Homo sapiens: one gene and its partner. The protein of the gene in region 1 interacts with the protein of each later gene in a pairwise test. Each region holds a gene or a part of one and is shown in the gene's direction. Other genes may lie near its edges. The genes, in order: BRI3BP and LETMD1.

Region 1 (15,519 bases):
TGCTTCTCAAAGTATGCTCAGAGGAACCCCAGGAGGTCCCTGAGACCCTTTTGGTTAGGAGGGGTGACTGTGAGTTCCTCTCTTCTCCCGTAACATGTCTCTGAGGTCAGGGATTCAGTACGTACTTTAATACTTCCATATATATTGATGCCACGTTAAGATGATGACATTTTAGATAGATTGGATTAAACAAAATATCTTATTAACATTAATTCCACCCTTTTTTTTTTTTTTTTTTTTTTGCCTTTTTTGCTGTGAGTACTTGAAAATTTTCAGTGACAAACATGGCTCACATTTGTGGCTGGTGTTCTGTTCCTCTGAATTCAAAACCAGATTTGGGGGCCAGGTCTCCTCTAAATAGCTAGATAGGAAAGAGACTGGCAAACATTCAAAGCACTGCCACTGTTCTCAGAGTGGTTTGTTCTGCTTTAGAAACAGTTGCTTTTTGTGAAAAATATTTTGTGTTAACCTATTGTCTTGGTCAGTTCAGGCTGCTATAACAAAATTCCATAGACTGTGTGGCTTATCAACAACAGACTTTTTTTTTTTTTTTTTTTTTTTTGAGATGGAGTCTCTCTCTGTTGCCCAGGCTGGAGTGCAGTGGCGCAACCTCAGCCTCCCGGGTTCCAGTGATTCTCCTGCCTCAGCCTCCTGAGTAGCTGGGATTACAGGCATGCACCACTATGCCCGGCTAATTTTGTATTTTTTTTAATAGAGACAAGGTTTCGCCATATTGGTCAGGCTGGTCTCGAACTCCTGACTTCAGATGATCTGCCCACCTTGGCCTCCCAAAGAGCTGGGATTACAGGCATGAGCCACCGTGCCCGGCCTAACAGACATTTTCATTTCTTACAGTTTGGAGGCAGGAAGTCCAAAATGAAGGCACTGGCAGATGCAGGCTGTGGGGAGAGCCCTTTCTTGTAGACGATGCCTCACTGTGTCTCACATGAAGGAACAAGGCGGTTCTCTGGGACCTCTTTATAAGGGCACTAAACCCATTCATGGGGGCTCCACCCCTACGACCTGATCACCTCCCCAGGACCCCACCTCCTAAGACCATCACTTTTGGGGTTAGGATTTCAACATAGGAATTTTGTGGGGGACACAAATACTCAAAGCCTAGCATCTGTAATGGGTTGTTATTTGAAAATGAGTTAATGATAGCAATGTTTTTAAATTATTAACAATGGCTGGACACAGTGGCTCATCTGGTAATCCCAGCACTTTGGGAGGTTGAGGCAGATGGATTGCTTAAGCCCAGGAGTTTGAGACCATCCTTGGCAACACAGTGAGACCCTGTATCTACAAAAAATCAAAACATTAGCTTGGTGGTGCATGCTTGTAGTCTCAGCTACTTGGGAGGCTGAGGTGAGAGGATCGCTTGAGCCCAGGAGGTAGAGGTTGCAATGAGCTAAGATCATGCTACTGAAGTCTAGCCTGGGCTACAGAGCAAGACTCTGTCTCAAATAAATAAATAAATAAATAATAAAATTTAAAAGATAATTAACAACTAATTAAAAACTACCTAATTTTCTGCTATGGAAAATATATCAGTTAGGTAGAACCCACATAAACGAAAGCTCTGGGGACGCTTCAATAATACTGAAGAGTGCAAACGGTCTTGAGACTGAGAGGTCTGGGAAACACTGGTTTAGCCTCCAGTCTGCAGGGGACAGGTGTGAAAGTCAGCTCCCAAGTCAACCACATTTAGTCAAAATGCTCACGATGCCTCAGGAAGGCACAGTGTAGCAAACACACTCTGGCTTCTGGGGAGTCCTGGTGACCCCAAGCCTTTAGTCCCAGAGATGGCTGCTGTTTACAGTGTTGGACTCTAGACACTGGCCAGCTGTGCGGAGTCTGATCATTTTGGGGAACTATGAGATGTTCACGCCGTAGGTGTCGTTATTGACCGGAGGAGCTCCAGGGTTGAGGCTTCCCATCTCAGGCCTGCTCTGGATTTGCGCTTGCCCACTCCAGATCGTTGTGTCACACTTTGGTCCTCTTTGGCTGGGCGTGGTGCCTCACACCTATAATCCCAGCACTTAGGGAAGCCAAGGCAGGCAGGTTGCTTGAGCTCAGGAGTTCGAGACCAGCCTGGGCAACATAGCGAGATCCTATCTGTATTTGCTGGTTTCCACACTGCTATAAGGAACTACCTGAGGCTGTGTAATTTATAAATAAAAGAGATTTAATTGACTCACAGTTCCACATGGCTGGGGAGGCCTCAGGAAACTTGTAATCATGGCGGAAGGCAAAGGGGAAGCAAGGCACGTCTTACGTGGTGGCAGGAGAGAGGAAGCAAGAGCGAGGGGTAAACTGCCAAACACTTTTAAACCATCAGATCTCGTGAGACTCACTCACTTTCATGAGAATAGCATGGAGGAAACCACCTCCACGATCCAATCACCTCCTACCAGGTCCCTCCCTGGACACGTGGGGATTACAATTTGAAATTAGATTTGGGTGAGAACACAGAACCAAACCACTTCACTGTCTCTACAAAAAAATACAAAAATTAGCCAGCTGTGGTGGTGCATGCCTATAGTCCTAGCTACTCGGGAGTCTGAGGTGGGAGGATCGCTTGAGCCCAAAAGGTCAAGGCTGCAGTGAGCCGAGATCACACCATCACACTCCAGCCTGGGTGACAGAAAAAGACCCTGTCTTAAAAAAAAAAAAAAAAAAAAAAGACCACAGATTCTTGGGCCCACCCAGGACCTACTGAATCAGATGTCCTGGGGGTGGGGCCCAGCAACCTGTTTTCCTAAGCCCTCCAGGGGATTCCTGGAGGAATCACACAAGTTTGAGAACTGCTTGTGTGAGAAGGCTTAGGATATAACTCTCCTTGAACTCATTAAACAACACTGTCAGGAAACAAACAATTGCAGCATGTGGGACCTCCTGCAAGAAAACCATCCTGGAAAAATTAGACTTCAGAATTTCAGTGTTTCTAAAATGTCATGGGTCTCTTCTCAATTAATGGAGACTAAAGTGATGGCAAATGCTGAACGTGAACTGTCGCTGGGTCCTGGTGAGGGTTGGGAGGAAACAGCTATTCCTGGATAACTGAGAAATTCAAGTGATGTTATATGGAATTGTTAATTTATTATTTATTTATTTATTTATTTATTTTTTGAGACAGAGCCTCACTGTGTCTCAGGTTGGAGTGCAGTGGCGCCATTGGCTCACTGCAACCTCTGCCTCCCTGGGTTCAAGCGATTCTCGTGCCTCAGCCTCCCAGGTAGCTTGGATTACAGGTGTGCGCCACCACGCCCAGCTAATTTTTATATTTTTAGTAGAGATGGGGTTTCACCATGTTGGCCAGGCTGGTCTCAAACTCCTGATCTCAGGTGATCCACCCACCTTGGCCTCCCAAATGCTGGCATGAGCCACCGTGCCCAGCCTGGAATTGTTAATATTCTTAGAATGATGATAGTATCATGGTTTTGAGGTGAATGATGTCTTTATTCTTAGATGTATGATGAAGTATGATGTGTACATCTTTCAAATGGGTTAATCTAAAAAGTATGTAAATAGAGAATGCAACATTCAGAATTTTTAATAATTGTTCAGTCTAGTTGGTTTCAAAAGGAATATTCTACTGTTCTTTTAACTTTTTTGTTTGAATTTCTTCAAGTCAGGCACACAGAAGATGCTACTCTTACATTTCACTGCATTCTTGAGATGGAACTTCGTGTGTGGGTACCAGTTAGGATCAGGTTTGGCTGAAACAGAAATCCAACATAACATTGGCTTAACCAAGATGGACACCTATTTCCCTCTTATATGAAAGTTCTCAGGGAGGTGGTGAGGCGGGTTTGATGGCTCTGATGCATGTGGTGCTCTGGACCAAAGCACCTTCCATTTTATTGTTCCTCCATGAGTGCCTTCCAAAATGGCTGCTCCAGTTCCAGCCATTGTATCCATGTTCCAGCAGGCAGAAGAGGTAAAGGACACATTCCTGCTACTTTTAGGGAACACATGGCCAAAGCTTAGTTATGTAGCTGCAAGAGAGGCTAGGAAATGCTTTAATCCTAGGTAGTTGTGTGCCCAGCCTGAAGGTGGGCATTTGTTACTATGGAAATTGAAGGACAATTTGCAGGCTATGCCCCACTTCCAGAGGTGTTTTAGTAAAAGGTGAAAGTTGTCTTTTGAGACAAAGTCTTACTCTGTCACACAGGCTGGAGTGCAGTGGCACATTATGGCTCACTGCAGCCTCTACCTCCCAGCCTCAAGTGATCCTCCCACCTCAGCCTCCTGAGTAGCTGGGACTACAGGTGTGTGCTACCACACCTGTCTAATTTTTTTAAAATTTGTGTTCTCTAGAGATTGGGTCTGTATTAGTCTATTTTCACACTGCTATCAAAACATACCCGAGGCCAGGCGCAGTGGCTCACACTTGTAATCCCAGCACTTTGGGAGGCTGAGGAGGTGGATCACTTGAGGACACTAGTTCAAGACCAGCCTGGCCAACATGGTGAAACCTCATCTCTACTAAAAATACAAAAATCAGCTGGGTGTGGTGGCATGTGCCTATAATCCCAGCTACTTGGGAGACTGAGGCAGGAGAATTGCTTGAACCTGGGATGCAGAGGTTGCAACGAGCCAAGATTGTGCCACTGCACTCCAACCTCAAAAACACAAACAAAAAAACCAAAAAACCTGAGACTAGGTAATGCATAAATAAAAGAGGTTTAATTGACTCACAGTTCTGCGTGGCTCAGGAAACTTATAATCATGGCAGAAGGCAAAGGAGAAGCAAGCACCTTCTTCACAAGGCAGCAGGAGAGAAAGAGAGAGCAAAGGGGGCAGCTGCCAAACACTTAAACCATCAGATCTCATGAAACCCCCCCCCCTCCACTGTCACAAGAACAGCATGGGGAAACCACCCCCATGATCCAATCACCCCCCACGAGGTTCCTTCCTCCACACGTGAGGATTATAATTCAAGATGAGATTTGTGTGGGAGCACAGAGCCAGTCCATATCAGGGTCTCACTATGTTGCCCAGGCTAAAGGTGAAAGATGTATATGATTTGAAGAGAAACCAGTATATGGAGAGGTTTTTAAAACTCAACATGGCAGGTCGTCTTAAAGGGCTTCCCTGGCTGGGCATGGTGGCTCATGCCTGTAATCCCAGCACTTTGGGAGGCCGAGGCAGGTGGATCACCTGAGGTCAGGAGTTCGAGACCAGCCTGATTAACATGGAGAAACCCCGTCTCTACTAAAGATACAAAATTAGCCGGGTGTGGTGGCGCATGCCTGTAATCCCAGCTACCCCGGAGGCTGAGACAGGAGAATTGCTTGAACCCAGGAGGCGGAGGTTGTGGTGAGCCGAGATCACACCATTGCACTCCAGCCTGGGCAACAGAGCAAGACTCCATCTCAAAAAAAAGAGGCTTCCCTGTGTGTCCTCATGGAGCAAAGTGTGACTATTCACAGAGGAACTTCCTTGAGTTCCTTTGGTTGTTGCAAAGGCCTTTTAAGCCCCACAGGCCAGCTCAACTATCCAATTCTAGCTTGTTAAGAAACCCCTGGCCCCTGCGTAACGAGCCCTGTTCCTCTTTTCTGTCCCGCAGTCTCCAACCTGTCCCAGTATTTCAGCCCAGCCTCGGTGTCCAGCAGCCCGGCCCGCGCGCTCCTGCTGGTCGGCGTCGTCCTCCTGGCCTACTGGTTCTTGTCCCTGACCCTGGGCTTCACTTTCAGCGTCCTGCACGTGGTGTTCGGCCGCTTCTTCTGGATCGTGCGGGTCGTCCTGTTTTCCATGTCCTGCGTGTACATCCTGCACAAGTACGAGGGCGAGCCGGAGAACGCGGTGCTGCCGCTGTGCTTCGTGGTGGCCGTCTACTTCATGACCGGGCCCATGGGCTTCTACTGGCGAAGCAGTCCCAGCGGCCCCAGCAACCCCAGCAACCCCAGCGTGGAGGAGAAGCTGGAGCACCTGGAGAAGCAGGTCAGACTGCTCAACATCCGTCTCAACCGGGTGCTCGAGAGCCTGGACCGCTCCAAGGACAAGTGAAGGTCAGCCGGCCGGGCGGGTCCACAGTTACCAGCACGCTGTCTCAGAAAACGAAAACGGAGGAAAAAAACCCCAAACCCCAAACAATCTTAATAAACACGACTGAGCAAGAAAGTGGCGCTGTGTAGGGCTATTTCCACCCACCCGGCAGCTCTTAGGACACATTCCCAGAAGAGCGGAAAGATCATTGACGTGGAACTACACACGAAGTGTAATTAGTGGGGGAAAAAATATTTTTTAAACAAAGGATATAACCATATTTAGTTGTACAGTAAGAGAAATTTATCTGTGCATAGAGCATAAAGTTAATTTTTTCAAGCATTTAAATACATCTTTTGTAAGGTTTTTTAATAAAGGCAGATTGAGTCAAGTTTATTAAAACTTTACATGGAGGGGAAGAATATGCTAATTTGACATTTGAGAAAAGTTTAAATGCGAGCGTTTGTTTTCACAGCTTAGGGATTGGTGGGTGAGGTCTGTGTGCGTTATTTTCATGTTCCCAAACTGTGAGCTTTATTTCATGTTATTTTTGGTGGATGTTGACTTAGTTCATGAATGTTGTCACTTCTAAATGTGGACAGTTGGGCTGCAGGATGCAACTCAACCTCTTTTGGATCCTAGAGACCCCTGCCAAGCCCCCATCAGTCCTATTTTTAAATGAAGACATCGCCATTTCTAGAAGACCTGAGATTTTCTTCCCTCTGTGCTTCGATGTATTTTAACCTCAACATTTTGAAACGGAAAATGCAAGGAGGGGCCAAGAAATGTCCTGGGGATTTGATGCCAGGAAGTACCTGGTAAGGATTGGAGATTGCTCCAGAATCTACTGCATGTCCCAATTTGCAGTTTGCTCACTAGGGCTATATACAAAAGCTATACCCTTGAGGGTTTTTTTTTTTTTCTTTTGATTTCCTCAGGACCTTAGAGGGAAAACAAACAGTAGCAGCTAATATTCTCAAGTATATTGCTGCTTAGAAAGATCCTCAGGAACAATTAGCAGCAATAAGCAAGCCTTTGAAAAGATCTGAATTCTTTTTCCTGAAATATTTACGATACACAGGTGCTTTTTATCTGAAATCTGTTGTGTCCTCCTTTTAGGCAGTCTCTGTGGGCAGAGAGTGGGACTTGCGAGGTGGACAGCTGTGGGGATCCTGGGCAAGGGAGTTTCAGAAGGTGTGGCTCAGGGGCTGGTAGAAACCCCCTTTTGTTAGGACTTGTTTTTTAAAAAAGAAAGCCCTAGGCCAGGCGCAGTGGCTGATGCCTGTAATCCCAGCGCTTTGGGAGGCCGAGGAGTATGGATCACCTGAGGTCAGGAGTTCAAGACCAGCCTGGCCAACATGGTGAAACCCCCGTCTCTACTAAAAATACAAAAATTAGTCAGGCATGGTGGTGGGTGCCTGTAGTCCAGCTACTCAGGAGGCTGAGGCAGGAGAATTGCTTGAACCTGGGAGGTGGAGGTTGCGGTGAGCCGAGATCACGCCACTGCACTCCAGCCTAGGCAACAGAGCAAGACTTCATCTTAAAAAAAAAAAAAAAAGCCCAGCATTTTGCAGCTTTGAAGCTGCTGGGGATCACGACTGTCTCTGTGGCCCTTACCTGGCCACAGATGTACCCTGGCAACCCGCTCACAGTGCCCTGCGTGCAGGTTTATAGATAACCCCTGCCAGACCTGCTACAACCAAGACCTTATGGTCCAGGTCTCAGTTTGGAGAAGATTTAGCTGTCTACCACTTCTTGTGTAGTGTTCCTGTGAAGTTTTATTTTTGGTTGCAAGTATCTGGAAAACAGATGCAGATGTTTTTGTGGATGTTGTTGAGACTTTTGAGACTTCTGTTTCTAAGGTACACATGATGGGACCCAAACTCTCCTGGAGAGTTCCATTCACTTCCTGAAACGTGCACCTGTTTCAGGTGCATGTTTATTCAGTGTGCATGGATATTTAAGATTTGCTGGAGCAGGCTGGGCAGGGTGGCTCACCCCTATAATCCCAACACTTTGGGAGGCCAAGGCAGGTGGATCACCTGAGGTCAGGAGTTTGAGACCAGCCCGGCCAACAGAGTGAAACCCCGTCTCTACTAAAAATACAAAAATTAGCCAGGCCTGGTGGTGGGCGCCTGTGATCCCAGCTACTTGGGAGGCTGAGGCTGGAGAATCGCTTGAACATGGGAGGCGGAGGTTGCAGTCAGCTGAGATCATACCACCACACTCTAGCCTCAGCAACAGAGTGAGACTCCGTCTCAAAAAAAATTATTTGCTGGATCGAATCTTTTTTTTTTTGAGATGGAGTCTCACTGTCAACCAGGCTGGAGTGCAGTGGCACCATCTCGGCTCACTGCAAGCTCCGCCTCCTGGGTTCACGCCATTCTCCTACCTCAGCCTCCCAAGTAGCCGGGACTACAGGCGCCCACCATCATGCCCGGCTAATTTTTTATATTTTTAGTAGAGACGGGGTTTCACCGTGTTAGCCAGGATGGTCTCGATCTCCTGACCTCGTGATCCGCCCGCCTCGGCCTCCCAAAGTGCTGGGATTACAGGCGTGAGCCACCGCGCTGGGCCTAGATCAAATCTTTATCCATGCACATTGGAACACAGGATTACTGGGTTGAAATCATTCTAGTTTTGTCATTTAGATACTTGTAGATGAATCTATTTTAGCACAAGGTATAAATAACTCGGGAGGTCATCTCTATCTTCTTTCCTTTTGTGCATTTGGCTATACCACGTTTAGGTACTAAAACAGCTTTGCTTATGTTGGCCAGGGGAAAACATGGCATTCTGTGCGCAAAGCTAATGATCGCCAGCCCTGCCTTGGCCCCTCCCTTGTTTATGGTCATTGTAAGATGCCCGCATGTTAAGGCTTAAGCTGTCACTGGGCTGGGTGTAATACCCGCTTCATTCCTCCTCCCACCCTCTTACCCGAAACATGAAGGGCACTGTGCTCTATTGAGATCTCGATAAGATCATCATTTTAACTTGTATTCAACTGAGGGAGGTAACATGATATCTGGGTGCTGGTGGATTGAGACCTCAAGCATCAATTCAAAATTGCTGTCGAAAATATGCACTATTTTTTTTTTCCACTCTGGCTAAGTGTAGGCTCTGAAGCCAGTTTTATAGCTTGATACATTCTGGTGAAAGATGTCTTCATTTTTAATGAAAGAACCTACAGTTAGTAGGTGTCACCTCAGGGTAGAAATTCTGATAGAAATTCTGATTATTTGAAACTCTGATAGAAATCCTAGATGCTAGATTTGAAGAAAACCTGGGTTTTATTGCATAGATTTCACCTTTTCTGGGGCACATCTTACCCCAAAATAATTGGGGATTTTTTTGTTCCTTCTCCATTCCATGGAACCTTGTAGGGTGTTGGGATTGGGCCTCCCCTCGCCACCCGCCACATGTCTTTGTTTTTTTCTCTCTTTTGTATGTGGAAAAATGTATTTTTGTACCATATCTCATACCTGGAGAGAAACCTTTTTTCTATCTTCAGGGCTGTAGAATATATTAGCGTAACACTTCACTGAATGTGACGTAAAAGCATTCTGATGAAAACTGGTTCTGTTATAATTAAGACTCAGTGTTTAAAATATCTTAATCAGTGTTAATTTCCCAGTGTTTCAGTATCACAGTAAATACTTGTTTTACTGAGAACAGAAAATAATCCAGAAAAGGAAAAGGACCAGCCCTCTCTAGATTGCTGGAATTGTATGGATGTGTTGGGGTTGGTTTAGTGATCTCTTCCTTGACACCCTAGCAAAGATGCTTTTGTGGAGTGCAAACCTTTCATAAATATACTTTCCAGGCTGGGTGCAGTGGCTCAAGCTTGTAATCCCAGCACTTTGGGAGGCCAAGGCGGGTGGATCACTTGCGGTCGGGAGTTCGAGACCAGCCTGGCCAACATAGTGAAATCCCGTCTCTACCAAAAAATACAAAAAAAAAAAAAAAAAAAAAAATAGCCAGGTGTGGTGGTGGGTTCCTGTAGTCCCAGCTACTCAGGAGGCTGAGGTGGGAGAATTGTATGAACCTGGGAGGCAGAGGTTGCAGTGAACTGAGATCACACCACTGTACTCCAGTTGAGGCGACAGAGTGAGACCCAGTCTCAAAAAAAAAAAAAAGTGTGTGTGTGTGTATATATATGTATATATATATACACACACACACACTTTCCAATACCAGTCGGCATTACCCGCCCTTTGGTTTCTTTTGCTTTGGATTTCAGCCCCCATATCATTTCTGGTAACAGAGCACAGCAATAGAATTTCTGGGAAGCAGACCTTGTGAATCGTGCCTGTGTCTTAATTCACAAAGGGTAAGTGAATGCCGTTGAAAGGTGTTTCATACACTTACCCCAGAAATGAGAGCCTGTCTCATGCAGGAGTCGGGAGGCAGCGATGTCAGGGAACTGGGACTATGTCTTTATGACTGTGATGGTGGTAACCAAGTGGGGTGGTCCCCTCTGGGGAGCTGAGTAAGAACGCAAAGGTTTGGGTCAGTGATTAGGAAGACTATAATATGACTTTGTGCATGCCCGGGAGGGCTGCCTTGTAGAGAGGATGTGAGCAGCTTAGTCGCTCATCTGGCCCTGTGATTCAGGCTTATGGAGCGTTAAGAATAACAGCTGTCAAATGGCCTAGACATGGTTAATGCAATTTGTTGCTAGTGGAAATCCTGAATTGCTTCCTTTCTGTGATCACTGCTACTTCTTAAGATGCTTTTGATGAATGTCATCTGCCTTACAAGTTGACACCTGATAACTTCTCCCTGATGGGTTTCCGAACTGGCTGACTTAACCAAAAAGCCAGCTCTTGCCATCTATCTTGCATTAAAAGGAATTCCTGAGGCTCCTAAGGGGTCAGCTGCCCCACTCCTGACTTTTTTATTTTTAATGGTCTATACCTTCTGCAACATTTTTGTTTATGGCCATTTGAATAGTTGGACTTTGACTCCTCACTTGTGAATAATAGGAATATATTTTGCAGAATCTAACATAATACCCTTAAAATTCATACTGGACAACCATCAGTGTGATGTATAGTATCTGGTGTAAACAAATTTTATTCAGCATATTAAATTATTCTGTGTTTTGCTTTTCCTTGATATGTAGGAGGTGCACCAGTACCAGTTTTTCTCTTGTGGTGGCTTAAAACGCTGATTGCCATTTGCATTGTCTACTGAAAAGCTGTGGCAGCGAGTGGTATTATTGACCATGTGTTCTCATGTCTTTTTGCAGATTTAAAGGTTTTATTGTAGTGTCCATTTAATATCTGCATGTGTGTTTAATCTCTGAATACCATGTAATTAAACTGATTAACTTGTGATGGTGATGGTGATTAGCACACACTAAAAACCCAATGAAGCAATTGTCTCCCTCTTCTTAACTGGAAATCACACTTGTGAGGTATGGTATCCATTATCAACAGTGGATTCATGATTGACTTCATATTTTGTGTATCTGGTTATAAATTTTGTATAGCATTTAATTTGGCACTTAATATAAATCCATTTGATTTGAATAGTGTGTGTGTGTACATGGTGTGTGTGTGTGTGTGCACTTTAGTTTCGTGAGCCTTGGGAAACTGATTCTACAAATATCTTATATAGAGATAAATGTATCAGGCATTTTTTTGCAAAGCGATATATACATTCCTCTTATTTATTAAATCACTGGCTTTGGTGTTATGTAGAGATATTTGTAGATCTCAGAACAGAATTAAAATATTGTGAAAATTACAGCTTAATAAATGTTTATTGTAATTTTGTTGTATGGACTTTTAAAATATATCTCATCACTTCTAACCAAACATTTGTGGAGTTTCCCCAGTTTTGATGTGTAACCAGGATTCTATGGTTCTATTCCTCGATCTGAGAAGAGTCATAAAACCTTGAATTTATGTATTCAGTTGGAGGTAAGGTTGCAAGATAAAATACAGGATGCCCAGTTAAATTTGAATTTCAGATAAACAACCAGTAGTGTTTTAGTATAGTGTAGAAGTGTTGGTTGCTTATCTGAAATTCAAATGTAAGCAAGTTTCCTGTATTTTTAGTTGCCAAATCTGACAGTCCTAGCACAGTGATGCGTGCCTCTCCACCCCACCCCGCATACCCATGCTGCTTTCTCAGGTCCTAACAATCCTTTTCTTTCTATTTTTTTTTTTTTTTTTTTTTTTTTTTTGAGATGGACTCTCACCCAGGCTGGAGTGCAGTGGCGAGATCTCAGCTCACTGCTGCCTCCATCTCCTGGGCTCAAGCGAGCATGTCCGGCCAATTTTTGTATTTTTAGTAGAGATGGGGTTTCACCATGTTGGCCAGGCTGGTCTCCAACTCCTGACCTCAGTGATCCGCCCGTTTCGGCCTCCCAAAGTGCTGGGATAACAGGCGTGAGCCATCATGCCCAGCCTTAAAAATCCTATTCTTAGTAAACATTTAGGAGCAAATGTAACAGGAGTATAATTTACCTTGACCAAGTATAATTACTCTTAACCCAAGAGTACTGCTCCTGCTTTTTACGCAAAGACAATCTCACATAGGTCGATAAGGGGACAATTTGAGGCTAGTTATTGTGAAGTTATCTGGGGGCAGCCTGGGTGGCCTGTCACTGGGAAAGCAGGCAGGTGAGCGGGGGCGGTGAGGCACTGGAGGACGTGCAGTAGGTAGTAATGACAGTAACAGCGTGGGGTGAGAAGGAAACCAGAATGAGGAGGGGCAGCTCATTTGAATAAAGTCAATACCTGCTATTAAAATAATCATTTTGGCCGGGTGAGGTGGCTCATGCCTGTAATCCCAGCACTTTGGGAGGCCGAGGCGGGCGGATCACGAGGTCAAGAGATCTAGACCATCCTGGCTAACATGGTGAAACCCCGTCTCTACTAAGAATGCAATTAGCCGGGCGTGGTGGCAAGTGCTTGTAGTCTCAGCTACTCGGGAGGCTAAGGCAGGAGAATTGCTTGAACCCAGGAGGTGGAAGTTGCAGTGAGCTGAAATCGCGCCACTGCACTCCAGCCTGGGCGACAGAGTGAAACTCCGTCTGAAAAACAAACAAAAAAAATTACTATTTTGTGGCCGGGTGCAGTGGCTCACGCCTGTCATCCCAGCACTGGGAGGCCAAGGCAGGTGAATCGCTCGAGTCCAGGAGTTCAAGACCAGCCTGGGCAACATAGTGAGAACTTGCCTCTACGAAAAGTAAATAAATTAGTTGGGTGCAGTGGCGCCTGCCTGTGCCTGCAGTCCCAGCTACTCGGGAGGCTGACGTGGGAGGATCGCTTGAGCCCAGGTGGTTGAGGCTGCAGTGAGCCATGATTGCACCACTGCATTCCAGCCTGGGGAACAGAGTGAGATCCTATCTCAAAATATAATCATTTTGTAAGAATGCATTGAAAGCAACATTCGAATTAAACACCATAGGCCGAGGAGGAGGAGGGAGTGGGTTATCGGATGGGGATTAAGAGGAATGTCAAGTACAAGAGGAATGAGACTTCACAGGAGAAGTCACCGAGGGCAGTGTTCCTCGGACCTAGAGGGTGCCGGGAACCCTGCCCCAGCCTGACCAGCTACAGCCTCACCATCTCCCACTGCCCCTTCTGCCCGCTGCCAATCCCGCTGCAGCCCCAGAGCAGCTGGCGGCATTGCTACCAGCCCCTTTGCACCTATGAAGGAAAAATAGAATCTCGGGATCTCAAACTCATTATGCCAAGGGCAAAGTTAAGCTTGGGAACTGAGCCACAAAACAAACAAACAAAAAAAACAAACACAAACTTCCTTCCTTTGCTTCCCAAACAGATAGCTGCCTACTTTATCTTGTGTAAAATGTAGATTTGGGCTGGGTGTAGTGTCTCAAGCCTGTAATCTCAGCACTTTGGGAGGCTGAGGCAGAAGGATCACTTGAGCTCAGGAAGCAGAGGTTGCAGTGGGCCGAGATGGCGCCCCTGCACTCCAACCTGGGCGACGGAGTGAGACTCTGTCTCAGAAAAATAGATAAAAATGAATACATAAATATACATAAAATGTAGATTCATGAGTGCTCGTCAAAGCCGAGTGAGACTCAGCCCTGCCTCACTGCCTACCATTCCCCACATTTTTCTTCCATCCTTCCCCTCCTGCTTGCGCATTCCCCTTTAAATATTTAAGTCCTCAGAACCCATTTTGGAAACAGCACAGGCCACAGATCCTACTGTGACTTATGTTTCTTTTCCTTGGGCCCGGCGTCAACCTTGACAAAATAAGCCACTAATCCATTGAGACCTGCCCCAGTCACTTTTTGGTTTACACTCCTATTTCTAACCAAGGCCCCCTGTACTGTTTTGTTTTTCTGGTTTTTTTTTGTTTTTTTTTTTGAAACAGAGTCTCATTCTGTCACCCAGGCTAGTGTGCAGTGGTGAGATCTCGCCTCACTGCAACCTCCATCTCCACGGTTCAAGCAATCCTCCCACCTCAGCCTCCCTAGTAGTTGAGATTACAGGCGCACACCACCACACCCAGCTAATTTTTGTATTTTTTAGTAGAGATGGGGTTTCACAATGTTGGCCAGGCTGGTCTTGAACCCCTGACCTCAAATGATCTGCCTGCCTCGGCCTCCCAAAGTGTTGGGATTACAGGCGTGAGCCACCACCCAGGCTGTTTTTGTTTTGTTTTGGTTTGAGGCGGAGTTTCACTCTTGTTGCCCAGGCTGGAGTGCAATGGCACAATCTCAGCTCACCGCAACCTCCGCTTCCTGGGTTCAAGCAATTCTACCGCCTCAGCCTCCCAAGTAGCTGGGATTTCAGGCATGTGCCACCACACCCAGCTAATTTTGTATTTTTAGTAGAGACGGGGTTTCTCCATGTTGGTCAGGCTGTTCTCGAACTACCGACCTCAGGTGATCTGCCCGCCTCGGCCTCCCAAAGTGTTGGGATTACAGACGTGAGCCACTGCACCCAGCCCCTTTTTTTAAAAAAAGAAAAACAAAAACAGCTTTATCAATGTAAAATTGACATACAATAAGCTGCACATGTTTGAATGTAACTTGGATAACGTTTCATATATGCGTACACCATGGACATCAAACTTGCCACAATCAAAATAGCAAACATGTCCATCACCTCAGGGCCCTTTGGGGTCCCTCTCACTGCTCTCCATCCCCAGGCAACCTTTGAGCTGCTCTCTGTCACTAGACATTAGTTTGTATTTTTTTTTTTTGGGCTGGGGATGGAGTCTCACTCTGTCGCCCAGGCTGGAGTGCAGTGGCGCAATCTTGGCTCAGTGCAACCTCTGCCTCCCAGTTTCAAGCAATTCTCCTGCCTCAGCCTCCCAAGTAGCTGGGACTACAGGCGCCTGCCACCACGCCCAGCTAATTTTTGTATTTTTAGTAGAGACGGGGTTTCACCATATTGGCCAGACTAGTCTCGAACTCCTGACCTTGTATTCTGCCCACCTTGGCCTCCCAAAGTGTTGGGATTACAGGCGTGAACCACCGCGCCCGGCCCTAGTTTGCATTTTCTAGCATTTTATGTAAATGGGATGAAACAGCAT
Region 2 (15,888 bases), about 74 Mb from region 1:
GTTCATGCCTGTAATCCTGGCAATTTGGGAGACTGAGGTAGGAGGGTTGCTTGAGGCCAGGAGTTTGAGACTGACCTGGGCAACATAGTGAGGCCTTGTCTCTACAAAAAAATTAAAACTCACTTAAAAAAAAAAATCCCTCTTTAAGACTGGGCCCAGTGGTTCACACCTGTAATCCTAGTCCTCTGGGAGATCAAGGTAGAAGAATCCCTTGAGGCCAGGAGTTTAAGACCAGCCTGGACAACATGGCAAGACCACCTCTCTATAAACAGATTAAAATACAAACAAAAACTCTTTCATTCTGGTATTTCCCCCCCAGTTCCTTGGGAAGAATAACTGTCCCGAATCAGCTTGTCAAATTTAGTGAATTAGTAACTAAAAGTGGCAAATCACTGCAGTTATTACCTCTGCTACAAAAAGAAACTTTACCTTTCCCTAAGGTTGCATTCTTCCATATCTTTGCACATATTGTTCCTTCTTTCTTCCTAGAAATGATACTCCCAGTGATACTTGGGTTTGGGGGCTCCAATCTTGTGCCATTTATTCCTACTACTTGTCTGCCAAGCAATCTCCAATTGACTCTCCACAACCTACTTCAAATCTGATGTTTCTTCACCTGGAAGCACCACTACTGCCACCACCATCAGAATTTATAAATTTACAGCCAGGCACAGTGGCTCACACCTGTCATCCCAGCTACTCAAGAGGCTGAGGCAGGGAGAAGTGCTTGAACCCAGGAGGCAGAGGTTGCAGTGAGCCGAGATCACACCATTGCACTCCAGCCTGGGTGACAGAGCGAGACTCTGTCTAAAAAAAAAAAAAAATTATGAATTTACTACTCCTTCAACTTTTTTTTTTTTTTTGAGACAGAGTCTCACTCTGTTGCCCAGGCTGGAGTGAAGTGGTGTGATCTTGGCTCACTATAATCTCCACCTCCCGGGTTCAAGCGATCCTCCCACCTCAGCCTCTAGGGTAGCTGGGATTATGGGCAAGCACCACCACGCCTGGCTAATATTTGTATTTTTGGTAGAGACGGGGTTTCACCACGTTGGTCAGGCTGGTCTCAAAGTCCTGACCTCAAAGATCTTCCCCCCTTGGCCTCCCAAAGTGCTGAGATTACAGGTGTGAACCACTGCACCCAGCTGCACATTTTAATGTAAGGCAATGCCTTACGTTTCCCAAGGAGAAGAACTAAAAGATAGTTTTTGGCCAACCTTTTATGAAGTAGTCAGATGTCTACTTTAAACATCTACTTAGTGGAAAATGTAAGTCTAATATTATTTAGCAACACATATTTTAAACCACATATAAAACATTTATTTAGAAATAATGCTTTTTCAGTCAAATTTTATATCATAATTTTATTCAAATCATCAATGTCATCATCATTCACGCCACTTTTATCGTTAACTAGCCCAATTTGCAGAGCAAGACATCCTTACATGTATCTAAGTTGAGGACAGTTTTTTTTTTTTTTAGTTCATGCTATGTTTGTATGTTCTTGGCTTATACAATATAATTTCTGTTTGTTTGTTTGTTTTTGAGATGGAGTTTTGCTCTTGTTGCCCAGGCTGGAGTGCAATGGCGTGATCTTGGCTTACTGCAACCTCCACCTCCTGGGTACAAGTGATTCTCCTGCCTCAGCCTCCCGAGTAGCTGGAATTACAGGCATGCACCACCACGCCTGGCTAATTTTGTATTTTTAGTAGAGATGGGGGTTTCTCCTTGTTGGTCAGGCTGGTCCCAAACTCCTGACCTCAGGTGATCCACCCGCCTCAGCCTCCCAAAGTGCTGAGATTACAGGTATGAGCCACTGCGCCCGGCATGTTTTTTGTTTTTTGGGTTTTACTGAAATAGATTCTGGGTTTGTCACCCAGGCTGGAGTGCAGTGGTGCAATCTCAGCTCACTGCAACCTCCGTCTCCCAGGTTCAAGCGATTCTCCTGCCTCAGCCTCCCGAGTAGCCAGGATTACAGGTGCTTGCCACCTCACCCAGCTAATTTTTGTATTTTTAGTAGAGACAGGGTTTCACCATATTGGCCAGGCTGGTCTCGATCCGCCTGCCTTGGCTTTTCAAAGTGCTGGTATTACAGCATGATCCACTGTGCCTAACCCTTTCTGGTTTTTTGTTTTGTTTTCTTGAGATGGAGTCTCCCTCTGTCACCCAGGCTGGAGTGCAGTGGCATGATCTCGGCTCACTGCAACCTCCCCCTCCCGGGTTCAAGTGATTCTCCTGCCTCAGTCTCCTGAGTAGCTGGGATTACAGGTGCACACCACCACGCCTGGCTAATTTTTGTATTTTTAGTAGAGACGGGATTTCACCATGTTGGTCAGGCTGGTCTCAAACTCCTGACTTCGTGATCCGCCCACCTTGGCCTCCCAAAGTGCTGGGATTACAGGCATGAGCCACTGTGCTCAGCCTCTGTAGTTTTTATTTTATTTTTGAGATGAAGTCTCACTCTGTCACCCAGGCTGGAGTACAGTGGCATGATCTCAGCTCACTGCAACCTCCACCTCCCGGGTTCAAGTGATTCTCCTGCTTCAGCCTCCAGAGTAGCTGGGATTACAGGCGTGTGCCACCACGCCCAGCTAATTTTTGTATTTTTGGTAGAGACGTGGTTTCACTATCTTGCCCAGGCTGGTCTCGAACTCCTGACCTCAAGTGATCATCCTCCTCAGCCTCCCAAAGTGCTGGGATTACAAATATGAGCCACTGCGCTTGGCCATATTCATTTAATAAATATTTAATAAGCCCCCCTTGTGTGCCAGGGACTGGAATACAGTGAGCTTAGACTCCTGTGGGGAAGATAGCCATGAAATGTATAATGACACAGCTAATTAATTATGATGTTAAGTACTATGAAAAATAAGTATAGCTAGCTACAAAGTGAGTAACAGGAACCTCAGTCTGTGGGGTTAAGAGTTTCCTGTAACAGAGCTGTTTATATACAGTGCAGCACTAACTCATATGCCCAGCCTGCCTGGGTTCAAATTCTGACTCAATCTTGAGCAGATTATTGAACCTCATTTTCCTCATGTATAAAGTGGAGCTAGGTCTGGCTTAGTGACTCACACCTATGTGAACCCAAAATATCTGAGACAGGTCTCAATCAATTTAGAAAGTTTATTTTGCCAAGGTCAAGGACATGACACAGCCTTAGGAGGTCCTGATGACACGTGCCCAAGGTGGTTGTGGCACAGCTTGGTTTTTCTTTTTTTTTTTTTTTTTGAGACAGAGTTTCGCTCTTGTTGCTCAGGCTGGAGGCAATGGCGTGATCTCGGCTCACCGCAACCTCTGCCTCCCGGGTTCAAGCAATTTTCCTCTCTCAGCCTCCTGAATAGCTGGGATTACAGGTGTATGTCACCATGCCCAGCTAATTTTTGTTTTTTTTTTTCTTTTTGAGATGGAGTTCCGTTCTTGTTGCCCAGGCTGGAGTGCAGTGGCGCAATCTCAGCTCACCACAACCTCCGCCTCCCGGGTTCAAGCGATTCTTCTCCCTTGGCCTCCTGAGTAGTTGGGATTACTGGTATACGCCACCAAGTCTGGCTAATTTTGTATTTTTAGTAGAGACGGGGTTTCTCCATGTTGGTCAGGCTGGTCTTGAACTCCCGACCTCAGGTGATCCACCTGCCTTGGCCTCCCAAAGTGCTGGGATTACAGGCATGGACCACTGCGCCAAGCCTAAGTTTTATATTTTTAGTAGAGACGGGGTTTCATCATATTGGTCAGGCTAGTCTTGAACTCCTGACCTCAGGTGATTTGCCTGCCTCAGCTTCCCAAAGTGCTGGGATTACAGGTGTGAGTCACTGTGCCCAGCCCACAGCCTTTTGTTTGTTTGTTTTTTGAGACACAGTCTCACTCTGTTGCCCAGGCTGGAGTGCAATGGTGTGATCTCAGCTCACTGCAACCTCCGCCTCCCAAGTTAAAGTGATTCTCCTGCCTCAGCCTCCTGAGTAGCTGCAGCTGGGATTATAGGCACGCACCACCATGCCCGGCTAATTTTTGTATTTTTAGAAGAGATGGGGTTTCACCATGTTGGCCAGGATGGTCTTGATCTCCTGACCTCGTGATTCGCCCGCCTCGGCCTCCCAAAGTGCTGGGATTACAGGCGTGAGCCACCGCGCCCAGTCGGAAACCTGAAAGGTTTTATAAAGAGAAATGACAAGCTTAGATTTGCAATTTTAAAAGCTCTCTCTGGTTACATACAACATGGAGAACTGGTTGGAGGGAGGACAAAACATATGGCAGGGAAACCAGTAAAGAGGCTGCTGTAGAAGTGGGGACCAGAGGCTTGCAGCTTAGCCTAGGGTGGTGGCAGAGAAGATAGAAGGAAGCTGGCTGATTGAAGAACAGCTAGAAGATAGAACCAACAAGATGCATGTGTGTGTGTGTGTGTGTGTGCGTGTGCACGCGCGTGTGTGTGTGTGTGTGTGTGTGTGTGTGTGTGTGTAGCGGGGGAAAGGGGGAAGAGGCCTAAACACTAAATAAATATCTCAGGAAAGGGCTGGGTGCAGTGGCTCAAGTCTGTAATCCCAGCACTTTGGGAGATCAAGGCAGGGGAATTGCTTGAGTCTAGGAGTTCAAGATCAGCCTGGCTAACGTGGCAAATCTCTATCTCTACTAAAAACACAAAAATTAGCTGGGCGTGGCGGCATGCGCCTGTAATCCCAGCTACTTGGGAGGCTGAGGTGAGAGGACCACTTGAGCCCAGGAGATCAAGGCTGCAGTGAGCCATGATGGGGCCACTGCACTCTAGCCTGGGCGACACAGCGAGACCCTATGAAAGAAAGAAAGAGAGAAAGAGAAAGAAAGAGAGGAAGGAAAGAAAGAAAAGGAAGGAAAGGAAGGAAGAGAAAGAAAGAAAAGTCTGAGGAATGACCTGTGTTCCTGCCACATTCTTTCATTGCATGAAATGCCTTCCCCTCTACTCCATCCTTTCAGACACAGTTCCTTCCTATTTTCTCCACAAAATTCTGATTTTGTCTCCTTTCCAAGAGAGTTCCAGAATTTTAGAGCTGAACATTCTTGAGTAGTTGACATGACTCAGAAGCTACCTGAAGATGGCTGGGCACGTTGGCTCACGCCTGTAATCCCAGCACTTTGCGAAGCTGAGGTGGGCAGATCACCTGAGTTCAGGAGTTCGAGACTAGCCTGGCCAACATGGTGAAACCGCGTCTCTACTAAGAATACAAAAATTGGACTGGGTGTGATGGCTCACACCTCTAATCCCAGCACTTTGGGAGGCCGAGGTGGGAGGATCACGAGGTCAGGAGATCAAGACCATCCTGGCTAACATGGTGAAACCCCGTTTCTACTGAAAATACAAAAAATTAGCCAGGTGTGGTGGTGGGCACCTGCAGTCCCAGCTACTCGGGAGGCTGATGCAGGAGAATGGTGTGAATCCGGGAGGCGGAAGTTGCAGTGAGCCGAGATTGCGCCACTGCACTCCAGCCTGGGCAACAGAGCGAGACTCCGTGTCAAAAAAAAAAAAAAAGAATACAAAAGTTGTCTGGGCATGGTGGCGGGCGCCTGTAAACCCAGCTACTTGGGAGGCTGAGGCAGGAGAATCACTTGAATCCGGGAGATGAAGGTTGCAGTGAGCTGAAATTGCGCCACTGCACTCCAGCCTGGGTGACAGAGTGAGACTCTGTCTCCAAAAAAAAAAAAAACAAAAAAAAAAACTACCTGAATATGAAGACCATGTCTTAGTCAACTTTTTTTTTTTTTTTTTTTTTTTTGAGACAGTCTCACTCTGTTGCCCAGGCTGGAGTGCAGTGGTGCGATCTTGGCTCACCTCAACCTCCGCCTCCTGGGTTAAAGCGATTCTCCTGCCTCAGCCTCCCGAGTAGCTGGGATTACAGGCGCCCACCACCACATCCGGCTAATTTTTGTATTCTTAGTAGAGATGAGGTTTCACCATGTTGTCCAGGCTGGTCTCGAACTCCTGACCTCGGGTAATCAGCCCGCTTCGGCCTCCCAAAGTGCTGGGATTACAGGCATGAGCCACGGCGCCCAGCCGTCTTAGTCAACTTTCTATCCCGTCCACCCCATCTACCCAACACTTGTGAAGATCCAGGGCCATCTTTTAAAACTTTTCCTCTGACTGCACGAGTGGTACAGTCATTAATAACCTGTGCTAATATAAAGCTCTGTGACCCATAAAGCATTATACAGATGTGGGAGCTTTCACAGCTGTATTCTCTTTGGATCCTCAAAGATTTCTTATAAAGTAGGTACTATTATAAGGGAAATAAACTCAGAGCTAAAGTGACATATCCAAGGTAACATTCACTAAAACAAACGTCAATGCCAAGATTGAACCTATATCCAGGGAACCCACATGGGATGCTCTACCACCTTCCATGAAGAATAAATATTCATATATATCCAAGAGGACTGTTAATTCTTGGAGGCAGTTAAGTACCACTTCTGGGAATCCTTCTTAGTTTCAAGTATGAATCTATTCAAACATGTTTACTGAACACCTACTATGTGCTAAGTAAGGCACCTAGTGTTGGAGGTGCAGCAATGAACAAGGCAGAGAAGATGCTTACCCTCATTCTAGTTCAGGGAGCTGTCAAACAAGGACACAAATACATAAACACTGTAAGTGACAGATGCTACAAAGAAAATACAAGGCCGGGTGCAGTGGCTCACGCCTGTAATCCCAGCACTTTGGGAGGCCAAGGCTGGCGGATCACTTGAGGCCAGGAGTTGAAGACCAGCCTGACCAACATAGTGAGATCCCGTCTCTACTAAAAATACAAAAATTAGCCGGGCGTGGTGGCGGACGCCTGTAATCCCAGATACTCGGGAGGCTGAGGCAGGAGAATCGCTTGAACCCGGGAGGCGGAGGCTGCAGTGAGCCAAGATCGCGCCACTGCACTCCAGCCGGGGCGACAGAGCAAAACTGTCACAAAAACAAAACAACAAAACAAAACAAAACAGAGTAACATGAGAATAAGTGTGAAGTGTGTCCTTTTCGCCGGCACTGCTTCAGATAGGGTGGTCACAGAAATCCTCTCAGAATAGTAACATTTAAGTTGAGACAGAGCTTGGTCTTCGGTAGGTGCTTAACGAAAACCATTTTCCCACAAACTTAGTTCTGGAAACGACAAAGAGAGGAAAAAGTGTACTCAGTCCGCACAGGGGCCGCTCCCAGGCCTCCAACCTTCGCCGCCAGACTGACTGGAAAGTGGACAGTTCCCGGCCTATCCACGCCGGCACCATTAGAGGGCGCCGCGGGTCCTCCTAGCCCCAGGCACTGGCAAACTGACATCTGCTACCTAACAGTCGAGGCTCCGACGCCCCGAGTCCAGGCAGAGGGCAAGGGCGGCGCTGGGAAGCCCTGAGGCCCTAAGGAATCGCGGAGGGTCACTGGGCGCCTCAAGGACAGGGTGCCCTCCGCGTCGCAAACCCACACCAGTGGCATAAGAACTCGCTCCCTCTGGGACACCCTGTTTCCGGCGCCTTTAAACCTGGAAGTACTGCTGTGTCCAATCCTGGCCCTCCTTCCGCACTTAGTCTTTGAGTCCTTCCCTCTCCTGGCTTGTGCTGGAGCCAAGCAGGCTATGGCTACCAATCAGCGCTCAGAAAAGACGCATGCGTCTTCGAACGAACGCGACGTACGGTTAACTTTGACCCAAAGACAACCTCTTCTCTCCCGCTTCTCTCGCTGTGAAGATGGCGCTCTCCAGGGTGTGCTGGGCTCGGTCGGCTGTGTGGGGCTCGGCAGTCACCCCTGGACATTTTGTCACCCGGAGGCTGCAACTTGGTCGCTCTGGCCTGGCTTGGGGGGCCCCTCGGTGAGGGACCTGTAGCGAGAAAAGCATTTTTGACGTCCAGGCTCTTTCAGTGTCTCAACCTTGCTTGCATTCTGTCTCTTAATTCTCAGAGTTCCACGCCTTGGCCCTGGAATTTTTATTCTTCTGTTCAGGATTCAAACTCCGATCCCCACTAGTGACCCGGCTTCCTGACCCTCTGTACTCTCAGTGCCCCATATTGTCTGGTTTCCCCGCGTGTCCTGAGCTCATCTTTCAGCCTCACTTTTTCGGCTCAGGTTTTACCGCTGCTATCTCGATTCCACCTCTTTCTGACTTAGCCTGCAGTTCAAATTGTCCCACAGGCATTGCGCTCTCTCCAGAGGCATACCCTGAGTTACTTTCCTGCCTGGCCTTTGCCTGATTTGTGTTTCACAGTCTGATTGCCTATCTCTTCTTGACCCCAAGACCTTCCTTGGATTTCAGAAGTGTCAAGCCTTGGGATACAATCTCCGAGACTCCTGCTTTACATTAGGGACTCAAGGCGTGAGGGAGCTTCTAGGACTGATTCCCAGATAGTCTCTTTGATCTTCCTTGTAGGTCTTCAAAGCTTCACCTTTCTCCAAAGGCAGATGTGAAGAACTTGATGTCTTATGTGGTAACCAAGACAAAAGCGATTAATGGGAAATACCATCGTTTCTTGGGTCGTCATTTCCCCCGCTTCTATGTCCTGTACACAATCTTCATGAAAGGTAAAAACGAAACTACAATAGAAATTCCGGAATCAGCTCTTGGGCAGGGTCAAAGAGTTAGCATAAATAAGATCATTTGCAGGTTCTGCTATGGGGATGTGAGCCGAGATATCTTATATTTCATAAATGCCTGCGCCTTAAACTAATTCCTATAAATTAGCACTTCTTGAGAATGTTTCTAGAAAGATGTTATGAGAAACAACTTATGACAGCAACATGAGGGAGGGAGAATATAGGTATGTTCTCGTACTTTCTTAACCACACACCTGGCTATAGTAGAAATTTTTTGCCTTGCACACGGCAGGGATCTGTGGCTGTATAGACCTGCCCTGTGATGTATCAGTTGACTTACCCATAGGAAAATGAGGTCTAACCCTTGTTATGAATCTATATTAGGTAGTATGTTGTAGTGGCAATAGCCCTACATAATACTTGGTTTCTAAATGTTTTGTTTCAAATCAGAGATCCTTAGTTACTAGGAGAAGATATGTATCGTGTCAAGTGTCTACTCTGGAGCCAGATTGCCTGATTCAAATCCCAGTTCGTCACTGTGCGATTGGACTAATTAATTAACCCCTCTTTCCTTGGTTTTCTTATGTGTAAAATGGGAGTAATGGAACCTACCTATTTATCACATGATTGTGAAGACTTTAAAAATTGATACATGTAAAGTACCTAGAACAGGTCCTGATCCCTAGTAAGTGCCAAGTAAATGTTAACTTATTTTCATCTAAATGTTACCTAACAGTATTATAAGTTGGTGCAAAAGTAATTGCGGCTTTTGGCTTTCAGTGGCAAAAACCACAATTGCTTTTGCACCAAATCTATAATATGCTCTATGCTTTTATCATAACACTATAATAAACTACATTGTCAAATCTGAACATTATCATAATTATTACTAGCTTCATGGACTTGAAAAATTACTTATCCTTAATTTGTAGAGATAAAATTGGCTGCTTTTTCTGTTTTCATGTAGATAAATAGGATCAAATGAGAGAAAGGGATGAAAGCATTTGTGTTTGTTTTTAAACTTTTTATTATGAATTTTTTTTTTTTTTGAGTCTCACCGTGTCGCCCAGGCTGGAGTGCAATGGCATGATCTCGGTTCACTGCAACCTCTGCTTCCCGGATTCAAGCAATTCTCCTGCCTTAGCCTCCCAAGTAGCTGGGAATACAGGCGCCTGCCACCACACCAGGCTAATTTTTTTATTTTTAGTAGAGGTGGGGTTTCACCATATTGGCCAGGCTGGTCTCTAACTCCTGACCTCGTGATCCGCCTGCCTCGGCTTCCCAAAGTGCTGGGATTACAGGCTTGAGCCACCGCGCCCGGCCAACTATTATGGAAATTTTTAAACACACACAGATGTAGAGAGAGTAGTGTAACAAACTTCCATGTATTAACCTCACTTCATTATCATAACTCATGGCTGCCAATCCTATTTATATACTTGCCTTATGTATTATTTTGAAGACAATCGAGACATCATATAATGACATGTAAATCATTGATAAATATGAAAGCATTAAAGAAATAGATGCAAGAAGCCGGGCGCGGTGGCTCATGCCTGTAACCCCAGCACTTTGGGAGGCCGGGGCGGGCGGATCATCTGAGGTCGGGCGTTTGAGACCAGCCTGACCAACATAGAGAAGCACCGTCTCTACTAAAAATACAAAATCAGCCAGGTATAGTGGCACATGCCTGTAATCCCAGCTACTAGGGAGGCTGAGGCAGGAGAATCTCTTGAACCTGGGAGACGGAGGTTGTGGTGAGCCAAGATCGCACCATTGCACTCCAGCCTGGGCAACAACAGTGAAACTCCCATCTCAAAAAAAAAAAGAAAAGAAAAAAATTAGATGCAAGAATTTTCATAAAATGAAAATTTAAAATGTAATCATAAAAATATATTGAACTAAACTACTTTAAAAAGTGTTCCAGGCTGGGCACGGTGGCTCACGCCTGTAATCCTAGCACTTTGGGAGGCCAAGGCGGGCGGATCATGAGGTCAGGAGTTTGAGACCAGCCTGGCCAACATGGTGAAACCCAGTCTCTATTAAAAATACAAAAATTAGCCAGGTGTGGTGATGGGCACCTATAATCCCAGCTACTCGGAAGGCTGAGGCAGGAGAATTGCTTGAACTCAGGAGGTGGACGTTGCAGTGAGCCGAGATTGCGCCACTGCACTCCAGCCTGGGCGACAGAGCAAAACTCCATCTCAAAAACAAAAATAAGTGTTCCAGGCCGGGCGCAGTGACTCATGCCTGTAATCCCAGCACTTTGGGAGGCCGAGGCAGGTGGATTGCTTGAGGTCAGGAGTTAAAGACGAGCCTGTCCACATGGTGAAACCCCATCTCTACTAAAAATGCAAAAATTAGCCAGGCATGGTGGCACACGCCTGTAATCCTAGCTACTTGGGATTCTGAGGTGGGAGAATTATATAAACCTGGGAGGTGGAGGTTGCAGTCAGCCGAAATCGCACCACTGCACTCCAGCCTGGGCAACAAAGTGAGATTCCATCTCAAAAAAAAGAAAAAAAAAGTTCCAGAAAGGAGATTAAATTAATATCTGGCTGGGGAATACATAGGGTTAATTTAGCAAGACTTTCTGAAGTTAGGGAGCTTGATTTTTAAAAAGGAGTGACCAGTGAAACAGAAGAGGGAGACCATTCCATAGCAGATTACAGAAGCCAAATGTAGCTAGAAGAGAGGCGATGTGCTAGGGGAAAAAATGTTGAGAAAAGAGATTCGAGTTGACCTCAGGAGTTTCAAGTTACCTAGTTTAAAGCTTTGAGTATCGTTGGGGAGGGGTGAGAGTGTTTGCATGTGATTGAACATGGAGTAGGAAGCTGTGGTTAAGATTTAAACTGGGATAACATCACACTCTGTCCTCTACTTTAATGAGGCAGGATTGCAGATGTTATGGGCTGATGCCAAAAAGGCTAGAAGAATAAAGACAAATATGTGGAAGCACAATATAAAGTTTCATCAACTTCCATACCGGGAGATGGAGCATTTGAGACAGGTATGGGCCAGGGGCAGATATCCAGAAGTTCATGGTGAGGTAATTACATTTAATCAAGATCTCAAGGTTTTTTCTTTCATTTGTTGTTCACCATTGATCAAGCTTTTGCCCTTTGCCGTGAGAACAAAATATTGAACTGAATGAGGCATCAGATTATTTGTAAGAATTGGGTTCATCCAGAGTTGTAGCCCTCCATAGCAAGAGCTCCATAGAATTTCTGGCACACTTTCTGAATGAAAGTTGTAAATACTAAAATCTAATTAGTTTCTGAACATAACAAAAGTCTGCAAGGGGGCTGGGCGCGGTGGCTCACGCCTGTAATCCCAGCACTTTGGGAAGCCGAGGCAGGCAGATCACGAAGTCAGGAATTCGAGACCAGCCTGGCCCACAAGGTCAAACCCCATCTCTACTGAAAATACAAAAATTAGCTGAGTGTGGTGGCGGGCGCCTGTAATCCCAGCTACTCGGGAGGCTGAGGCAGGAGAATCGTTTGAACCCGGGAGGCAGAGGTTGCAGTGAGCCAAAATCATGCCATTGCACTCCAGCCTGGGTGACAGGGCAAGACTCCATCTCAAAAAAAAATAATAATAAAATGAAAATAGAAGTCTGCAAGGGCAGCCAGGCACAGTGGCTCTCGCCTATAATCTCAGCATTTTGGGAGACTGAGGTGGGCGGATCACCTGAGGTCAGGAGCTTGAGACCAGCCTGGCCAACATGGTGAAACCCCATCTCTACTAAAAATTCAAAAATTAGCTGGGCATGATGGCAGGCGCCTGTAGTCCTAGTCCCAGCTACTCGGGAGGCTGAGGCAGGAGAATTGCTTGAACCTGGGAGGCGGAGGTTGCAGTGAGTGAAGATCGCGCCACTGCACTCCAGCCTGGGTGATAAGAGCAAAACTCTGTCTCAAAAAAAAAAAAGTCTGCAAGGATCCAAAGGGCAGCATGAAAGTAGTATTTGGTGGTGACTTGATGGGTCGTTTTGAAGCTGAGAGTAAGAATCTAGGACCCATTCCGCAGATCAGGAAGAGTTCACTGAAGGATTTGGTATAATGTCAGGCTCTGTACTAGACATTATTTGGGATACAAAAGTAAATAAGTCAGAGGTTTTGTCCTCAAGGAACTAACCATCCAGAAGTAAATAGAAATAAACTTGGGGACCACATGCAGTGCTCATGCCTGTAATCCTAGCACTTTGGGAAGCCAAGGCGGGCAGATCACTGGAGGTCAGGAGATTGATACCAGCTTGTCCAACATGGTGAAACCCTGTCTCGACTAAAAATACAAAAGTTAGCCTAGAGTGGCGGCTTATGCCAATAATCCCAGCTACTCGGGTGGCTGAGGCAGGAGGATCACTTGAACCCAGGAGGCAGAGGTTGCAGTGAGCTAGGATTGCACCACTGCACTCCAGCCTAGGTGACAGAGCAAGACTCCATCTCAAAAAGAAAAAGAAAGAAATTTGGTCCTTTTTCTGGGCTGTAATAGAAGTTTACTGTACAGTGGGGTGGATGGATTGTCTATTGTATTAACAACTTATTTGGGTTAAAACTGCATCTGTGTTTATTTCTGCTTAGTTCCGCCAAGACGTCACCAAGTGTCTTTTCCTAGGTATTATTTCCATTCCACCTTTTGCCAACTACCTGGTCTTCTTGCTAATGTGAGTACAGACTTCCATCTCCCCAACATCTTGAAGATGTATCAATTTTTTTAAATTAAGAATTACTTTAAACAGCACTCATTTCAGAAGATAGGCAGAGGTTATCAAACTTCTGCTCCAATCTTCTCATTATTCCAAGGTTCATAAAAACCACTTAGGAAGACCTTGGTTACTGTGACACATCACAGCTATAAGTGTAGGTGGCCTAGACTCTCCCTATCTCTTAGCTGCCCTGAGTCATGTGAAATAAGATAGTGACCTTCTCCATCATCCCTAGAGGCTCTCTCCCCGAGAGAGAGTACTTTTAGACTAATTTCTTTAGGAAAAGTACATTTCGTATTCTGATAACATTTTTATTACTTCATATCCAAAAATGACATTTCTTAACTGTGATCTTGCATGTCATTCATTATCTATTGCTGTATAACAAATAACTTCAAAGCTTAATAGCATAAAACAATCGTATAAATCATTTTCATGATTTTGTAGCTCAAGAATTAGGGCAGTGCTCAGGTGGGCAGTTGATTTCTCTCTTCCATATAGGGTTGACAGAGGTCCCTTAGTGATATTTAGCTGCTGAATGGACTAGTCTGGAAAGTCCAATATCACTCTTATGTCTGGTGCCCTGGCAGGGATGGCTACACGGCTAGAACTGTCAACCAGAGTGCCCAGATGTGGCTTCTTCAGTATGGCAGCCTCAAGATAGTGGGACTTCTAACTTGGGAGCTCAGGGCTCCAAGAGTGAGGGGTTCTAGTAAGAATCTACATGACTTTATAACCTTGTCTTGAAGGTCACATAGAGTCACTGCTGCTCTGTCCTATTGATTGAATCAGTCACCTAGAATGAAAAAAGGGCAGGATGTAGACCTCAGCTCTCCATGAGACAAGTGCCAGAGAATTTGAGGTCATGTTTTAAAACCACCAAACACGTAGATAAATAAATTAAAAAACAAATCGTGGCCAGGTGCAGTGGCTCACGCCTGTAATCCCAGCACTTTGGGAGGCCGAGGCGGGCAGATCACAAGGTCAGGAGATTGAGACCATCCTGGCTAACACAGTGAAACCCTGTCTCTACTAAAAATACAAAATACTAGCTAGGCGTGGTGGCGGGTGCCTGTAATCCCAGCTACTTGGGAGGCTGAGGCAGTAGAATCGCATGAACCCAGGAGGCAGAGGTTGCAGTGAGCCGAGATCGCGCCACTGCAGTCCAGCTTGGGTGACAGAGCGAGACTCTGTCTCAAAAAAAAAACAACAAATCAGTTGCCTTTTACATACTGGGTCCACATAAGGACTGTGCTATAGTTAGATTGTCAACATCACATATAGTGTCCTGGTCAGGCTGCAACTCTCTCCAAAGCATGCTCTTCACATGCTTTAGTTCAAAATGAGTCATTATATCTGATTGCTGCGTGGCAGGCTATTCTGCTAGTCCTTCCTTTCACATCCCATTTCAGTAATGGTGCTTGAAATTGTGCTTCAGTGTGTCTTATAAACTTTGGTCTGAGAGTCACTTAAGAGAAAGGGCTGACTGTAGTGGCTCTCACCAGTAATCCCAGCACTTGGGGAGACTGAAGCAGGAAGATTGCTTGAGACCAGGAGTTTGAGACCACCCTGGGCAATATAGCAAGACCCGTCTCTGCAAAAAAATTAAAAACTTAGCCAGGCATAGTGGCCTGTGCCTGTAGTCCCAGCTACTCAGTAGGCTGTGGTGGGAGGATTGCTTGAGCCTAGGAGGTCGAGGCTGCAGTGAGCTGTGATCTTGCCACTGTACTCCAGCCTGGGTGAGAGAGGGGACCCTGTCTCTTAAAAAAAAAAAAAAAAAAAAAAAAACTGAAAAAGAAAAAGAACACTGAGGTAGGGAAATAGTGTCTCCATCTCTTCTTCCTAGTATTCATGTCTACCAAATGCTTTCTTTGGCTTCCTCTGAAAGAAGCCAGTTTCAGCAAGTGAGTTTGTGATTCTTTCTCCTTTCAGGTACCTGTTTCCCAGGCAACTACTGATCAGGCATTTCTGGACCCCAAAACAACAAACTGATTTCTTAGATATCTATCATGCTTTCCGGAAGCAGTCCCACCCAGAAATTATTAGTTATTTAGAAAAGGTCATCCCTCTCATTTCTGATGCAGGACTCCGGTGGCGTCTGACAGATCTGTGCACCAAGGTATTCCTGCAGTTAACCCTTCCTACAAATGTGGAATCTTGTTAGATTCAGTGTGCACTAAACTAGGTAAGAGGAGTAGTCAGGACTTTCCTAACATCTACAAATCTCTTACCTCTTCCAAGATACAGCGTGGTACCCACCCAGCAATACATGATATCTTGGCTCTGAGAGAGTGTTTCTCTAACCATCCTCTGGGCATGAACCAACTCCAGGCTTTGCACGTGGTGAGCACTTTGAGGGCTTCTCTTTTCCATAGCATCACCATGTTTCAGGTGTTTGCTTGAGCTCATACTATTTGCCTTTCCCCTCCTATGTGGTTGTGTTACAGAAAGCCTTGAGCCGGGCCATGCTTCTCACATCTTACCTGCCTCCTCCCTTGTTGAGACATCGTTTGAAGACTCATACAACTGTGATTCACCAACTGGACAAGGCTTTGGCAAAGCTGGGGATTGGCCAGCTGACTGCTCAGGAAGTAAAATCGGTAAGAGCTTGATTGCAACATCAACCCTCAACCCTTGGTGTGCTTTTGAGCCTATGGCA

What was found.
Region 2: the proteins of BRI3BP (region 1) and LETMD1 interact in binary tests that used the Homo sapiens proteins (3 or more experiments, as listed by UniProt).

The regions. Positions count from the first base shown.
Region 1 is NC_000012.12:125,019,416-125,034,934, forward strand, and holds the end of BRI3BP (BRI3-binding protein precursor), read left to right. Parts: intron 1-5,575; coding exon 5,576-6,015; 3' UTR 6,016-11,816; downstream 11,817-15,519. UniProt on the Homo sapiens protein: Involved in tumorigenesis and may function by stabilizing p53/TP53.
Region 2 is NC_000012.12:51,040,674-51,056,561, forward strand, and holds the start of LETMD1 (LETM1 domain-containing protein 1), read left to right. Parts: upstream 1-7,653; 5' UTR 7,654-7,683; coding exon 7,684-7,805; exon of another isoform or gene 7,806-8,339; coding exon of another isoform or gene 8,340-8,360; coding exon 8,361-8,512; intron 8,513-11,414; exon of another isoform or gene 11,415-11,418; coding exon 11,419-11,534; coding exon of another isoform or gene 11,535-11,573; intron 11,574-13,104; coding exon 13,105-13,187; intron 13,188-15,161; coding exon 15,162-15,348; intron 15,349-15,470; coding exon 15,471-15,572; intron 15,573-15,676; coding exon 15,677-15,829; intron 15,830-15,888. UniProt on the Homo sapiens protein: Plays an essential role for mitochondrial structure and function, as well as thermogenesis of brown adipocytes.